Regions from separate parts of the Homo sapiens genome. Here region 1 is linked to region 2. Evidence: fine-mapped expression QTL. A gene starts in region 2. The other region holds a variant in brackets. All regions are shown on one strand. Distances are from middle to middle.

Region 1 (2,917 bases), 230 kb before region 2:
CATGAGCCTCAATCTCTACCTCACATCATACACAAAAATTAATTAGCAATATGCGATAAACCTAAATGTGTAAGTTAAAACTGTAACTCTTCCAGAAGAAAATTTAGAACATCTTTACAACCTTAGGCAAAAGTTTTAAGTAGATGTGTGAATGGTCAATAAGTACATGTAGCAGTGCTCAGCAGAGAAATGCTTTAAAACTGCAATTAGATACTACTTCACACTTAGGAGAATAGCTTTAAAAAAAAAAAAAACCCTGACAACACCAAATGTTCACAGAGAAATGAAGCAACATGTATTAAACAATACTGGTGAAAGTAAAAAAAAAAAAAAAAAAAAAAAAAAAGGTTGCAATGTCTCAACTACAAGGAATACAAAATTTGGGAGAAAGAAATTATCAGGATAAAAAACAATAAATGGTGTTTGTGTGTTAATATAATTTTTGTTTTAAAATACATGTTCTATTAGCGAGGCATGGTGTAACATGTCTATAGTCCAAGTGACTCAAGAGGCTGAGATGGGAGGATCACTTGAGACCAGGGGGTCGAGGCTGCAGTTAGCCATGATCATGCCACTGCACTTCATCCTGGGGAACAGAGCGAGACCTTGCCTCAAAAAAATATAATATAATAAAATACATAAGTAAAATAAAATATGTGTTATATTTTAAAAGTATAAACTGAACCGTTAGGGTTTCTGGTTTAGCACGTACAGACCTAAAAGTAGCAACTCTGTTCTTACAAGTAAAAACCCAAACAAACTGAAAAATCAAAAACTCTTCTTAGATCCATCAAAGAAGTGAAGTCATAGGGCAAACCCTCAATCTTCCTGTTTTCATTGTTGCACCTTGTTTTTCTTCTGTTATGTCTAGTCAGCACAATAAGGCAAGAAAAAAATATTTATAGGCTGGAAATGAAGTAATCAATTTTGTCTACATAGACTGTATTATTAGCAAAGAGAGGACACAAGGTTAACACACAAAAATTAATTGCATTTCCATATACTAGCAATTGCCAGTTAAAAATCAAAACAGTAGGCTAGGCATGGTGGTTCATGCCTGTAATCTCAGCACTTTGGGAGGCCAAGGCAGGCAGATCACCTGAGGTCAGGAGTTCGAGACCAGCCTGGCCAACATGGTGAAAACCCATCTCTACTAAAAATATAAAAATTAGCCAGACATGGTGGGGGGCACCTGTCATCCCAGCTACTGGGGAGGTTGAGGCAGGAGAATAGCTTGAATCCGGGAGGTGGAGG[T/C]TGCAGTGAGACCAGATCACACCACTGCACTCCAGCCTGGGTGACAGAGACCCTGTCTCAAAAAAAAAAAAAAAATCCAAACAGTACTACTTATAATATCATAAAAAATCATGAAATACTTAGGAATAAGTCTATTAAGATATCTCCGGGATCTGTATGTGATAAATACAAGACACTGATGAAATAAAAGAAAACCTAAATAGGTCAGATGCAGTGGCTCATGCCTGTAATCCCAGCACTTTGGGAAGCCAAGGTGGGTAGATCACTTGAGCCCAGAGGTTGGAGACCAGCCTAGGCAATATGGTGAAACCCCATCTCTACAAAAAATGCAAAAATTAGCCAGCCGTGTGGTGTGTCTGTAGTCTCAGCTATTTGGGAGGCTGAGTTGGGTGGATGACTTGAGCCTGGCAGGTTGAGCTACAGTGAGCAATGATCACACCAGTGCACTCCAGCCTGGGTGAGACAGCAAGACCCAGAAGAAAAAAAAAAGAAAGAAAAAGAAAGAAAGAAAGACAGACAGACAGAAAGAAAGAAAGAAAGAGAGAAAAGAGAAAACCTAAATAAAATCTAAAAACCTAAAAAAAAAAAATCATGTTCATGGATTAGAAGACTCAATATTGTTAAAATGTCGGTTCTTCCAAAACAGATCTATAGGTTCAATGCAATCCAATTAAAACAATATTAGCATTTTTGTAGAAATCTTAACCGTATTCTAAAATTTATATGGAAAGACAAAGGAATTTCAACAGCCAAGACAATTTTGAAAAAGAGCAAAGTTGAAGGGCTCACACTACCTGATTTCAAGATGTACTAAGGGCTACCACAATCAAAACACTGTGATATTCATGAAAGGAGAGATAGATGCATAGATATTTTGGAACAAAATTAAGAATATAGAAATAGACCCACAAATATATGGTCAATTAATTTTTTTGATAAACATACAAAGACGATTTAACGGAGAAGCTATATTCTTTTCCAGAACAAACTGTTCTGGAACCACTAAACAGCCATATACAACAACAACAAAAACTTTGGCTCATACCTCTCACCTTATTCACAAATTTAAAAATAGAATCATAGTATAAAGGAAAAAAATGTGATCTTGGTACAATCTTGGCAACCCTATATGCAGTAAAGCAGGAAAGCAATATCTTCAATCTTCTTACACAGAAATTCAGTCAATATTGATTGAATATCTGCATCAATAAACCTAATTGACACAGAATTTATCTTCCTTCCATCCAGTGCCAAACACAAATGCCACATAAAAAGCAACATTAAAAAATAAACACTAGGTCAGGCATGGTGGCTCACACGTTACCCCAGTACTTTGGGAGGCCAGGGCAGCAGGATCTTGAACTCACTTGAAGCCAAGAGTTCAAGACTAGCCTGGGTAAAACCCTCTCTCTACAAAAATAAAATTTTAAAAAAACAGCTGAGTGTGGTAGTACATGCGTGTATTCCCAGTAACTTGGGAGGCTGAGTCAGGAGGATCACTTGAGCCCAGGAGTTTGAGGTTACAGTGAGCTGTGGTCCCACCAATCTACACCAGCCTGAGTGACAAGAGCAAGATCCCAACTCAAAAACAAAAATAAAAATAATTTTAAAAATAAACAGTAAACTTATTCATTAAAAGGTGGGATTACCCTAGTTTCATAAA
Region 2 (2,850 bases):
AGTAAAACCCCAATGGCAAATTCATTATTTTTAAAAATCATGGACTGACCTATTGTGATTTTAAGGTATAAAGAAACCTCTCCTAAAGCAGGTGGGTGGGCGTAAATCACTAGTTAAAAATAAATTGCAAAAGAGAAAAAACCCGTCAAGGGGTAAGTTGCTTCTCTACGGTGGGAAGCGTTAGGATGAGGCAAAGCAGGAATGGTCATTTCCCAAGGCTCTACTTTAGTGGTCAATTAGGGCGCTGGGGCTAACGCTAAGTAAACACGTTCGAATTCTTCGGAACCTCTACCTGGGTTTGGGGTCACTGAGCCACCTTAGTCTACTCAATCTTCTCGAACAAGAAAACTTGGGTGGTTGGGGTGGGGAACAATTCGTTATTCTTGCAAGATAAACCAAACCTGGCTGGGATCATCTGCCTACTTCTGAGTTTTCTCCCCAAACCCAGGCCGGGGGCTGGAAGCGGCATACAAAAGGCAGGCGACATGACCTCTCCGGGTCTACTCTCGGGCCAGGCGGAAGGTGGGAAGACCAACTCCGCTACCCCTCCCGTAGAGGGCCCGCTTCCGGGCGGGGGGCAAGGAGCCCCCAAGGCGAAGTCCCCTCAGGAAGTAACCCCAGCTCCGCAGCTAGGACGCAATCGGGAACCAGCCCACTCCTGCTGACTGACGCCAAGGGAGAGTTCGGGACGGGAGCGGCTCCCTCCCAGATCTGTAGCCGGCTGGGGCTCGCGGGGGGCTCCCTTCCCGGGGAACGCGCTCCCTTCTCATCTCCCAGACCTCGGCCGGGGGGAGAGGGAGGCAGGAGTTCTGCGGGGGCCTCACCAGGCGGAGCTGGCTAATTTCGTCGTAGGACATAAAGCTGAGGATGTTCTCGATGGCTACGATGGGCAGCGCCACAAGCGTGTTGTTTTGAGGCAGCTGGTCCGGAGCCAGCGCGGGGGCTGGGAGCGCCTGGGACCCCGGCTGCGGGTGCTGTGGCGCGGGCGGTGGAGGCTGTCGCTGGGTAGAGCCGGAGGCCAAAGAGGAACCGCCGTCGCCTTGGCCGCCGCCTCCTTCCTCTGCCATCCGCTCCTCCGCCGCTGCCGCCATCTTGGGGGCTTGATTCCTTACCCCCACAGCAAGGGGAACAGGGACACTTCCGGTGCGTCACTTCCTCCTCCTGCAGCCGCCGGGGAAGGGGTACCTGGAGGAGTGGGGAGGAGCCTGTGGGATAACAGGCGGAGAGAGACTCACAGGGTGCCTTTCAAGTGGAAGTCAGGGAAGATCATGTAAACCTCAAGAAAGGTGGTCATCCTAGACCCTTTTGTCTAAGATTAGTAACTACTTGAGAGCAAGGAAACCCTATTTATTAAAATGAACTTCACTGTGCAGTTTTCTTAAAGGGCTTCCTGACAATGGATGATAAAGATGTTGCCTAGTAAGTGTAGATGGAAATAATGTAGTTAGACTAGCACCATTTTTTAGGAATCATAGAAATGATTGATTTAGGCAAATAAAAAGGTATGAAATATCAATAAGAACTACAACATGAATGAACCGTGAGAACATATTAAGTGAAATAAGTTAGACACAAAGGACCACATATTGTATGATTGCATTTATATAGGATGTCTTAAATAGGCAAATCCATAGAGATAAAAAGTAGATTAGTGGTCGCCAGAGGCTGGGGGAAATGGGGAAATGAGTGCTAATGGGTGAAGGGTTTCATTTTCGGGGTGATAAAAATGCTCTGGAATTAGCGGTGATGGTTACACAACCGTATGAATATACAAAAACCACTGAATTACTATATACTTTAATGAATTTTATCATATATGAATTGTATTCTAATAACTGATTTAGGCAAGAATCATCAAAAGGTACTAAAACTAGGAGGTAAACGTGATGAGGAACATGATATTTCCATAGTCTCAAAATAACTCCCCATAAATTATGTATTATTTACAAAGATGAAAAGAAATAGTTTACAAGGCTGGGCGTGTTGACTCACGCCTGTAATCCAGCACTTTGGAAGGCTGAAGCGGGAGAATCACTTTAGCCCAGAAGTTGGAGACCAGCCTGGGCAACGTGGAGAAACCCCATCTCTACAAAAAATACAAAAAATTAGCCAAATGTGGTGGCTAGGTCCTATGGTCCTAGCTACTCGTGAGGCTGAGATGGGAGGATTGCTTGAGCCACACGAGTTCGAGGCTGCAGCGAACCGTCAGCCTGCCACTGCACTCCAGCCTGGGCAACAGAGCGAGAAAAAAAAAAAAAGTTTACAATAGAGAAATTTGGTGGACACCATCATAACCAAATGATCAAGACTAACGCCACAGTTATAGGAGGAGCCAATATCATATGCCTATTAATATAATACCCTGAAAAGGACGCAGCATAATGTAGTATTCATGCAAAAAAAGCACGAGTTGCGTTTGAGGTAGACATCGCTAGATGACGGGCCCATAAATTATTCAAAAGTGTTAACGTTACAAAAGACAAAGACTAAGGGTTTGTGGCAGATTAAAGGATACTAAAGAGACAGGGCAACTAAATCTATGGGTGATCCTGGATGGGATCCTGGATTAAGGAAGAAATAACTATGAAGAACGTTATTGTGACAACTGGCAAAATTTAAAAATGGACAGTATATTAGATTATACTGTAATCATATTAAATTTTTCGATTTGGGTAATTGTATTATGGTCATATAAGACAATGTCTTTGTCTTTAGGAAATACACATTGAAGGATAAGCATGCTTCTATTATTTTCCTTTATTTATTTATTTATTTTTTTGAGATGGAGTCTTGCTCTGTCACCCAGGCTAGAGTGCAGTGGTGCGATGTCAGCTGGTTCGAGCAATTCTC

The links. PIP is the estimated chance that this variant, and not a neighbour inherited with it, causes the effect.
Region 1: its variant is fine-mapped to the expression of FBXO28 in tibial nerve (GTEx, PIP 0.96).

The regions. Positions count from the first base shown.
Region 1 is chr1:224,346,255-224,349,171 of GRCh38, reverse strand. No RefSeq gene overlaps it. Among named protein-coding and RNA genes, the nearest start is that of CNIH4, 9.2 kb to the left of the region's middle. The variant T/C (reference allele first, on the strand shown) is at 1,255.
Region 2 is chr1:224,112,371-224,115,220 of GRCh38, reverse strand. It overlaps FBXO28 (F-box protein 28), which reads right to left and starts at 1,110. Exons shown (of 5, transcript NM_015176.4): 1 at 825-1,110. The coding sequence starts at 1,091. It overlaps LOC105373056 (a long non-coding RNA gene), which reads left to right and starts at 1,181. Exons shown (of 3, transcript XR_007066897.1): 1 at 1,181-1,286. RefSeq lists enhancers at 1,048-1,117, 1,258-1,317, 1,338-1,467.